3 linked regions of the Homo sapiens genome follow. The protein of the gene in region 3 purifies or fractionates together with the protein of the main gene of each other region. This does not show direct contact. Each region holds a gene or a part of one and is shown on either strand. Other genes may lie near its edges.

The links.
Region 1: the proteins of AKR1B10 (region 3) and POTEF purify together in Homo sapiens (affinity purification with mass spectrometry; 3 studies listed by BioGRID and IntAct, with this or other methods). This does not show direct contact.
Region 2: the proteins of AKR1B10 (region 3) and COX17 fractionate together in Homo sapiens (co-fractionation; one large-scale study listed by BioGRID). This does not show direct contact.

The regions. Positions count from the first base shown.
Region 1 is NC_000002.12:130,122,641-130,126,295, reverse strand, and holds part of POTEF (POTE ankyrin domain family member F), read left to right. Parts: intron 1-3,655.
Region 2 is NC_000003.12:119,669,549-119,673,303, reverse strand, and holds part of COX17 (cytochrome c oxidase copper chaperone), read left to right. Parts: intron 1-3,638; 3' UTR 3,639-3,755.
Region 3 is NC_000007.14:134,526,008-134,529,762, forward strand, and holds the start of AKR1B10 (aldo-keto reductase family 1 member B10), read left to right. Parts: upstream 1-1,559; 5' UTR 1,560-1,904; coding exon 1,905-1,970; intron 1,971-3,755. UniProt on the Homo sapiens protein: Catalyzes the NADPH-dependent reduction of a wide variety of carbonyl-containing compounds to their corresponding alcohols. Displays strong enzymatic activity toward all-trans-retinal, 9-cis-retinal, and 13-cis-retinal.

The sequences.
Region 1 (3,655 bases), on a different chromosome or scaffold from region 3:
GTTTTGCTCTTGTTGCCCAGGCTGGAGTGCAATGGGGCGATCTCGGCTCACTGCAACCTCCGCTTCCTGGGTTCAAGCAAGTCTCCTGCCTCAGCCTCCTGAGTAACTGGGATTGCAGGCATGTGCCACCATGCCCAGCTAACTTTGTGTTTTTAATAGAGATGGGTTTTCTCTATGTTGGTCAGGCTGGTCTTGAACTCCCGACTTCAAGTGATCCACCTGTCTCAGCTTCCCAAAGTGCTGGGATTGGAGGTGTGAGCCACCACGCCTGGCTCTCTGCCACCATTTTCAAGAGTATTGTCATCTGCCTGAGCAAACCTGGTTCATCACCACCTCTTTGCAAGAGAAAAAGGAAGTCGGGAGAATTGTGTGTAATTTTTTTTTTTTTTGAGATGAAGTCTCGCTCTTGTCCCCCAGGCTGTAGTACGATGGCCCGATCTTGGCTCACTGCAACCCCTGCCTCCTGGGTGAAAGCAGTTCTCCTGCCTTGGCCCCCTGAGTAGCTGGGATTATAGGTGCCTGCCACCACGCCCGGCTACTTTTTGTATTTTTAGTAGAGATGGGGTTTCACCCTGTTGGCCAGGCTGGCCTAGAACACCTGACCTCAGGTGATCCACCCACCTCGGTCAGCTGTGTGTATTTTAAGGCAAAGATTCACAACCAAAAACAAGGCTTTATTAACTTTTGTATCTAAGAACCTGCAGTGTCGAGCCCTCTTTTATTCCTAGTATTACTACTTTAGGTGTGAACTTTTTATCTTTATTTTACTGATTCCTCTAGAAGTTTATGCATTTTCTTGACTGCTTTAAAGACAATCTATATTGTATCATTTTTCAAGCCCGTAGAAATGTGTAAGGCCTATAATTTGAACACTTGTTATTTTTAAGGTTATGAGCATGTAATATACCGTTGATACATGGAAGAATATGTATAAATACCACTAGATAGGTTATATTGAAGAGATAATATCTAAATTTTTGTCCAGAGTTGATGGGGTGCAGTTTTGTAGGTGTGTTTCTCAATACATTGTGTCCATGTTTTAAAGCATATAGAAATTTGAATACTGTTTAACCTCATATAGTCCTTGTTTATAGGTTTAATATTTCTAAAGACTAAAGACGTCACAGCTCCCTTTAAGATTCAGTAATACTAATAAAATTTGAGATATACAGGGTTAGAGTCCAACAAATTCAAAGGAAAATTGTTGAATTATATAGCCGTAGAGCAGGAATGAAACCCAGGTTCTAAGTTCCAAGGGGGCCATGAGCTACCATACAGGTGCATCAGTGACTGGGCATAGAGGTGGCAAAATTATTTAAGAGAGTGAGCTGTGGATCCTAATTATGTGAACATGAATTTTTGAACTGCATGGTGCCTCAGTTTATCCATCATTACAGTGGGGACAGTAGTAAGTTTTTCTTTTTCTGCTCAGTTGTCTGAATTATTACCCCAGTCTCTCTTGTTGCCACTCTTGATGCCCACATGAGAGGATCTAAGGTAATTTCTGACAACCTGGGACTCCTTAAGGAAAAACAGAAGGTTCCACAAACCCCATTTTAGGAGAAACCTCTGTTTTCCTCATGGAACCCCAAGAACTTTAAGCAGACAGGTCCCTCTCAAAAATCTAAGGCTCTGCTCTGTTTTGCCTTGCGTTGTCTGACCTTTTTGGTTTGGATGGGCATCAGAAATTAGTAGGGGAGAGAGATCTAAAGAAAATTGTGGATATGAAGATGTATTTATTGTAAGAAATGTTATGAAGGAAAGAAATGTTATATGAGAGAGGATCTTATATGGCAAATTGTTGTCCTAAAGTAGAATGACTAATTACAAAAGAGGGAAATACAGGACAGGTCAGATAAATTTAATCATGTTGTAGATAGTCTGTGGAAGTTGTGTTATGATTCATAAAGTGGGAAAGAAAAACTGAACAACTGCTAGATCTTTTCTTGTCTAGAAGTGTTGTGTATGTGATGTATATATAATGGCTCGGCTTAAAAGAAAATGAAAGCTCTTAAATATTTTGTAAGAAAAATAGAAGCTCTAATGCCTTTTATTTCATGTGACTTCAGTAATCTTTGGGAAATAAAGATGGTGTTAAAGTCAGTGGTAAAATAAAAATATCTTCAAAATTTATCCATTTGGTCTAACTTAAGTCAGAGGTTAAGTTTTAGAAGTGCTTTAATGTCATAAATTGATGCTTTGACTTTGGAAAATAGTTTTGTTTACCTGGTTTGGAGCCGTTAGATTTCTAGGTAAGGTCTCCGGACAGGTGGAGTTAGCCATGTCTCCTAGCTATGCTGGAAGGAGTCAGATTTTATCTGCAGTTCTGTCTTGTATCCTAGACTCTGCACCTGGTATGCAATTAAAACTTACTGCTGCTGCTAATCTCTGGGTTCCATTTAAAATCCTTCCATCACATGAATACTATCCCCTGTACTAAATTTTTCCACAATTAAATACTTAGAATCATTTTTGCTGACTTGACCCAACCATTAGTGATATATTTTAAAAATGCTTATAATGTGTCACAATATATTTAGCAAATGTAGGGAATGACATTTTTACTTTCTTCAGCATTTACATAGCATTTATGTAGCAATGCTATCTCAAGTATTTTTAATCATTTAAATGTTAGATAATAGATATGTTTTTTATTCCTTTTTTCTATGTAAATAAATATAATTATGAGATATTTAGTAAATAGTATCAATTGCATATGTCACTTACAGAATATACAATGAAATTAGGATTATTTTTATACACTACATCATATTTACTTGTTGGCTTTCCAATAACTTAGAAATAGTATTCTGGATTAACTGTGTGACTCATGAGAGAGGGAGTTTGTGCAATTATAGTCTTTACAAATTTTTACTAGATTTTTCAAGACTTATGCTAGAACTTTGAGAACAAGGTAATAAATAAGCATATCTGTTAATATCACCTTTGGTCAACTCTTGGCTAGACCCAATGATAATGTAGGAATTAACATAATTTTTCTACTAAAGGTGTTGGATTTGTTCCGAGAGACCACAGTTCAAAGTCATTGACAAAGAAAGTTTAAAAATTGTTAGATTAAAACCTTTTAGTGTGTTTGAAATTGTTTTGTAGAAAAATATCCTGGTTTGCATTGATAGGTTTTTTTTTAAATAACAACTAGACCAAGAGAAAGGGAGAGTAGTGATAAATGTCCATGTTTTCGAGTTGAAAAGTAACAATCAGTGTATTACAACAGATGGATTTGATGTCAAATTACAAATGCTGAGAACGTTATATGTAACTGACTTGCCAGAGTAATTATACAAGGCAAAGAAAGGAAAGGCATCTAAATAGGAAGGGAAGGGGTGAGATTGTCTGTGTTTTAGACTCCACAAAAAACCCATTACAGCTGATAAACACTATATTCAATAAAGTTGAGAGTTACAAAATTAACATTGGCTTCTATACACCAATGACAAACTGTTATCTGAAAAATAAGGTAATTCCATTTATAATAGCAACAAAACAAATATATAAGTAAATCAAAGAGCAAGGAGTAATTTTAATGAAGGATGTGAACGATTTGTATACTGAAAATTATAGCACATTGATGAAAGAAATTGAAAGTGACAAATAGAAAAAGTCCTATATCAATTGAAAAAATTAATATTGTCAA
Region 2 (3,755 bases), on a different chromosome or scaffold from region 3:
CACTACCTATAACAGTGCCTGGCTCATAGTAGGTGCTTAATGGAGGATTGTTAAATGAATGAATAAATAAGGAAATTAAAGCTTATAGTTATGAAATGGCCCCCAAGGTGGGTTGTGCAGTATCAGAACTGGAGCCTCAGTCTCCATGCCGATTCCCTCTGCTTTTTGCCCCTACCCTAACTTCCACACCACACTACCACTTTTAACTTAATAACAGCTGAGAGAGAATGCCAAAGCCATATGCCAATATATTAGTACTAGAGAGCCTGGCTTCTTTCCCTTGCACCTCTTTCCTGCCTCTTTGGAATTTCACATATGGCCAGTCTTCCTCACTGAGCTATAAAAAAGGAGGGATAAGGAACTTGTCGCAAGCTGATAAGAAGTTACTGTGTAATGGAAAACAGTCTAGGCTGAAAGTCCTGAGGCTTTGTTTTTATTCTCCTGATGTTTAGTTTATCATGTTTTTAAGTTTAGCTACATTTAGCTTCATCAAGACATTACTCCTCTGAATTTCACTTATTATTTATAAAAAGAGAACCATAATACATTTTGTGATTCTATATATAGTATGGTATATCTACTGTTGTGTAAATGATATACTTAAGTTGCTTTTAGAATAGATGGTTATTTAAAGAAATCCCATAATGAACTATTTTATAAAATAAGTAAATTTGAAGGGGAGTGTGTTCTTAAAAAGTATGTGTACTTTATTAACTATTTTTAAAGATGCAACCTTAACATTTGTACATGGTTTCCTTGTTCATGATCTAACTCCCTCGTCAGTTGTGTAAGCTGTAGGCTTGTGCTGAACTTGCCTTGATAAAAAGGGGTGATTAAATAAAAAGAAATGCTAATTTTAGGAATATCAAAAGCTTATCTTGGACTTCATCTGAACCACAAAGGTGGTACAATTGTTATAAGTGGCATATATTCAAAAGTATCATATGATATCATAGTTTTCTTTATGTTATCAGGGCAGAGAGTGAGAATTATGTTTGTGTACTTCATTTGTGTGTAAAAGAAAATGCAAAAGCTTTAGACTTAGAAAATCTACTGCTTAACTGATTGTGTGGTCTTGGGCAGGTCCTTAACTTTCTGTACCTTGGTTTCCTCATCCGTAAAATGGAGACAATAATACATGCCCAAACTACTTCATAGAGTTGTGATGATTCAATGTAAAATAAATCATCTGTAAAAACCAGAACAGAATAGCTCATACCTTTAGAGTTGTGGATAGCAGACATTCAGTTGAGGTCTGTTAAGTATATGACTTGATTATTATTGAATCCTGGTTACAAGAAGAACAATCTGAATCCATATAGGACCCTTCTGAGAATTCAAACTGCCATGTTTTTCATTTTCAGTGTAATAATATTTTGGGAAGAGGACTGGGTGTTGGATCCTTATTGGTCCCAGGTGTCCTATTTCCCCAACCTCCATGGGGAAATGGAAGCACAGTGAAGTCAAAAAAGACTTGCTCAAGTTAGGAGTGGATAGTGGTAGAATTAGATTAGAGTTAAGATTTTTATATTCTCTAAATCACAGGCACTTTACACTTCACGCCTTGTACTTAATGAGATTTTATTCCAACATATTCATTTTTAGGATTGCACATAATCTTGATCTTCAATCTTAAAACCTCATTATGAATGCTAATTAGAAAGACTTGTTGCGGAAATGTACAGTTGCATATAACCCAGTAAACAGGCCATTGGCTGGAGGGTGAAATCCAACACAACTGTCTGCATTGCTATAAGATAAACTTAACCTAAATCGGTATTTCTTAGACTGTTAGATCACATTTTTCTGAGAATAGCTTCAAAGGAAAAATATTTTGCAAACTTAGATCTCTCTGGCAACGATCATGAAAGTTCCTTAATTCAAAAACCTTTGTAGATTTTAATGTTATTCCTAAGTAGATCTTAATTGTACCTCAAGTGCAGTAGATTGGGAATAAATCTATTATACATTTTTTATACCTTACCTGAAAGTAGGCTACATTCACCCAGTGGTTCTTACCCAGAGGTGCACCTCAGAATCATCTGAAGAATGTTTTCCAGAATTCACAACTTGGGCCCTGGTCTGCACCTGTTGACTGAGAAACTCCTAGATGATTTTCAAGTGCACTCCTCTTTAACAACCACTGGCCTAAGTTGAAGATGAATAGCAGGGATAATGCTAGGCATAAAGTATCTGAAAATTTAGTAGTAGCAAAGGCAGAGACTTGAAAACTCAAGAAAAAATAGGTATGGTGGTGATTTTAGACAATTTTTTTCTATTTTATGACTGCTGCTTTTACTGAAAAGAGTAATTAGAAGAACCTAGAACCTCATTAGAAATATGAGGAAATAGATGGCTACTATCTTCCTGCCTTTAGGAGACAGAAGAAGCCTAAAGAACCTATTTTGGAGACTAAAGTCGTTGAAAGAAATTAAAGGACTAGTACTGAATAGTGGTGATACTCAATATTAAGTTTAACAACTTAACAGTTGGATGCTTAAAATATGCTGAATTGTACACACACACACACACACACACACACACACACACAAAACTGATCATGTATGAAAATATCCCAAGATAATCCAGAAAGAATAATTTCTGCCATTCAAACATTTGTTCATTCAGCAGATATTTATTAAGACCCTGGAAAATACTGAGGAGAGAAAGATTATCCCTCCAGTCAAAGACTTTACATCCAGAGATATAATCAAACAGGTTTAAATCCAGGGTCTTCCACCACACAGCCCCTTTTGTTATGTAGTCAGTCGCAAAAGTCGTAACAATGCTATGGGCTGCTATAATTGAAAGGTTGAATGGCTTCGTTTTTGGTTATCTTTCCAAACTTTTCTATAAATGTATTCTTCCTTTGAGTCTTTTAGAAAAGAGTTTAGATGTTTGTATCTTGATGTGGTTTATCTTTATTTAAACCAAATGAAGTGAACAGCTAAATGAAGGAAATATTTGCATTAGACTTGAAGAGTTAGCTACCCCAATTTAATTACCTTCCTAGCATTGTTCTCAATCTTCTGGGATAGGCACTGGGAGAGGTGTGAGAAGCCTGGTATTGACTTGACTGGATCAGCAACCCTATCTATGCTACTCTCCCTTTTTGATTTTTCCAAATGAATATTAAAGGGTTGCCCTTGTCTTGCCTTTGGGATTAAGTGAGTAACTTTCCACAGGAAGTGCCTTGGGTACTGAGCTGACCTTCTGCCTTCTACTTTGTGGATCTTCGCCAGGCATACTTGAATCAGCAAAGAGGGGTTTGCAGGTCTTGTTTCTTGAATATCTGTAAAAATAACTGCTTTAGCCTTTTTTGGAGGATATTTTTGAGAAATATGTATTTCTCAAACACACACATATGTATTATATATATATACACGCAGAGAGAGTTTTTACTTCAAAAACTTTTAAAGAGTAAATAATATCATGAATAATTTCACTAATGTTTTTAGTTAGGCAAACCTAGAATTTTAAAATGTTGATTTTGAATTTTATGACTGATTTGGAATAATTCTGGCAATTAGTTAATTACTCATCTGAGGCATTCATTTCTAGTGGTCTTAATTCCCTGACTCCATAGATCTGGCATGATGTTTGAAATCTGACTTTCTAAAATAAATATTTTTCTGTAGGTGGTCTGCTGTGTGAATAAATAATTCCTGAAGAATGAAGAAGATTAATTTTGGGAGTTCTTTGACGAACTTTGATATGTGGAAAAAGTATTTATAATTTATTGTAAGAAGAAAGTA
Region 3 (3,755 bases):
TTCCCAGAGAAATATTTTTCTTGTAGGGACCCTCTCTCTGTTATTTAGGTTGACAGTCACTAAGGATTTACTATTTCAACAATACTAGCACTGCATGTCATCCAGTATACACTGGGAAAATAAAGTGCCGCAAGTGCATATCCAGGAGACTTTGTGGCCACCAGATTATGAGGAATGCATGTATTTAATTATTTATTTTTGGGACAGAGTCTGTCTCTGTCGCCCAGGCTATAGTGCAGTGGCACCATCTTGGCTCACTGCATTCTCCACCTCCCAGGTTCAAGGGATTCTCAGGCCTCCCAAGCAGCGGGGACTATAGGTACGTGCCATCATGCCTCGCTAATTTTTGGATTTTTAGCAGAGACAGGGTTTCACCATGTTGGCCAGGCTGGTCTCAAACCCCTAAGCTCAAGTGATCTACCTGCCTCGGCCTCCCAAAGTGCTGGGATTACAGGTGTGAGACACCATGCCCGGCCCATGCATTATTATTAATGTTGAAGTAGATAATTTAACAAACATCAATGAAGTATAAGATTTTTCACTCATAGTTGCAAAATATCATGCCAATTGCCTTCTATGAGCTGTCATAAGCCACAGCCTAGAGATTCAATTCCATTTCAAGATTCAACCAAAGCCAACTCATCAACAAGAACATGTAAAAGACAGAAAAACCCACTACCGGCAGGCTGAAACAGATGCTGTGACGTGGCCCTGGCCTGTCATGGCGTGTCACAGCATGGCACAGGCCTATATCATGTTCCCTAGATTGCTGACTACCAACTAGTTACAGCTGACTCCAATCAGGTCGGGATTTGACCATCTCTGCACTGAACCTGCAATTGCAACTTTTAAAATTGAAACGCTGCTTCTCACCTCTCCTCCCTAGACTCTATTTCACAGAGGAAACCATCACAGGGAAAGCAAGCCCTTGTTTTTTCTTCCTTCTTTGCTTTGCTTTCTTTCTCTCCTTCCTTCTTTCTTTCCTTCCTCCCTCCCTCCCTCCCTCCCTCCTTCCTTCCTTCCTTCCTTCCTTCCTTCTTTCCTTTCTTCCTTCCTGCCTTCCCTTCTTTCTTTCTTTTTTTTGAGACAGGGTCTCACTGTCTGTCGCCCAGGCTGGAGTGCAGTGGCATGATCTAGGCTCATTGCAACCTCCGCCTCCCAGGTTCAAGTGATTCTCCTTTCTCAGCCTCCCAAGTAGCTGGGATTGCAGATACGTGCCCCCACGCCCGGCTAATTTTTGTATTTTTAGTAGAGGCAGGGTTTCACTATGTTGGCCAGACTTCTTTCCCTCCCTCCTCCAACTCTTCTTTTCTTCCTTGCTGTCTCCCTCCCTACCTTCCAACTTTTGGCTGTGTTGAATTTGTTGACTCATCCTGAACAAGCAGAAACTCCAATGATACTGTCACCTAAGAGAGAACTTTGCACAAGGTTGCCATGTTTAATAATTCATTCACAGAATCCTCAATCTCACAAAAGCCTGGAATGGATTTCCTGTTTGGTTATGGCAGGGAAGCTACTGTGGCCAGGCTCCAACTCCTCCCACTGTAGATAGCAGCAGCCTTCTTAAGCAGCCTGTGGCCGGGCACAGTAGCTCACACCTGTAATCCCAGCACTTTGGAAGGCCGAGGTGGGCGGATCACCTGAGCTCAGGAGTTTGAGACCAGCCTGTCTCTACTAACAATATAAAAATTAGCTGGGAGTCACGGTGGGCGCCTGTAATCCCAGCTACTCGGGAGGCTGAGGCAGGAGAATTGCTTGAACCCAGGAGACAGAGGTTGTAGTGAGCTGAGATCGCACCACTGCACTCTAGCCTTGGCAACAGTGCAAGACTGTCTCAAAAACAGCAACAGAGAGCAGGACGTGAGACTTCTACCTGCTCACTCAGAATCATTTCTGCACCAACCATGGCCACGTTTGTGGAGCTCAGTACCAAAGCCAAGATGCCCATTGTGGGCCTGGGCACTTGGAAGGTAAATATGCAAATCTTTGCACACCCTTCTTCTCTGGAGGGGCGTTTGGGTGTTTTCTCTTTCTGCATTCAGCCAGGAAAGCCTGGAGGTCGGGCAGGGGTTGGAGAGGTAAGATTCAGCCCTGGAGCCAGGACTTAGGTTGCTTTCTTTTCTCAGAGCTGATTCAGGCTGCAAAGCTCCAAGGCTGGCTTTCCCAGCAGTGATGAGAGCTTCTCTAGCAAGTATCAAATTTCAAGCAGCTGTTGGACTTAAAACTGTTTTCCAGGGCAGTTTCTCTCTCTGGTTCTAGGACACTTAATTGGGCTCAACGTTTCCCCCAAGTCTTGGCTGTGGGTTTGTTGTGGGCTGGGTGGTTGAGGAGAGGATGCAGAGCCCGAAGTCCTTGGCACCCCTTTGCAGATCACGGTGTGAGACTTGGGCTAGCAGCATCCCTATGACCTGGAAACTTGCTAGAAATGCAAACTGGCCAGGTGTGGTGGCTTATCCCTGTAATCCCAGCACTTTGGGAAATCCAGACGGGAGGGTTGCTTGAGCCCAGGAGTTGGAGACCAGCCTGGGCAACATGGCAAGAATCCATTTCTACAAAAAATAAATAAATTTTCTGGGCATGGTGGCACGCACCTGTAGTCCCAGCCACTTGGGAGGCTGAGGTGGAGATTGAGTGTTGAGCCTGAGGGGTCAAGGCTGCAATGAGCAGTGATTGTGCCACTGCACTCCAGTCTGGGCAACAGAGTGAGATCCAAGAAAGCAAGAAAGAGAGAAAGAGAGAGAGAGAAAGAAAGAGAGACAGAGAGAAACAAAATGCAGAGTCTCAGGCTCCAACCCAGGCTACCTAATGGGCATCTGCACTTTAACAAGATCCCTACGTGGTTCCTGTACACATTGAAATCTGCAACATGCTGGGGCTGCAGAGAGCCTGGGCTGGGAGTCGTGAGCACCACCCGGCTGTGTTAACGACAGCTGGCAAAATGTGGTAAGGCACATCCAGGACTCAGTGAGGCAGGTTCCCGAGCCTCTGTTAGGCTAAGTTTCAAGTTGTTCCATCACCACCTCCCTCTGCCTTCTTTGCCATTTCCATCCATGATAGCACTACCCTAACTAGTGATGAGAAGCAGTCTTTGGAGTTCCTCTTCTCTCCTGTCCCTCATGGCTAATGTCCCTGCTGAGACTTCTGCCTCTGGCTCTCTTTCCTTCTGTGCACCCTGATTTTTCTTCTCTTCTGTCCCAAGCTAGAGGTTAGGACCCTCTGCTGCAGCACTGGGTCATCCTCAGGATACATTCTTGGTGTATCTGGAGGAACAGATCACTTCCAGCTTGATTCATGCAGAGCGTCTCTTGCTTGAATAGCAAGATTTGCCCAAAATCAGACCTTCAATCCTGTATAAACAGAATAAATAATCACTTCCAGATCTCCAGGGAATCTACTCACCCTGGGTGAGTTTACCAGACAGTTTCATAATTTTGGAATTGAATGAAAGAATTATGAAGGGAGCTGTCTTCAACACGTGGGGATGATAGACTAAAGGATTATGAACTTAGCAGTGGAGGTGAAGAAGGGTGTAGCGTAGCGGTTGGGGGCACAGGGCTGCTTCTGGGTGCCTGGCAGCAGCTCGTTTCTTGTCCAGGTGGTAGGGTAGCTGTGCATCTCTGTTTTGTGTACTGTTCAATGTTTGTTATCTCACAATTGAAGAGGTTTAAAAGACCATTTTGTGAGAGATCAAGTTTTAAGTGCTTTTTTGCCCCCATCATTGGCTTGGCTAGGTTAGAACAAAATGTGATAATTCT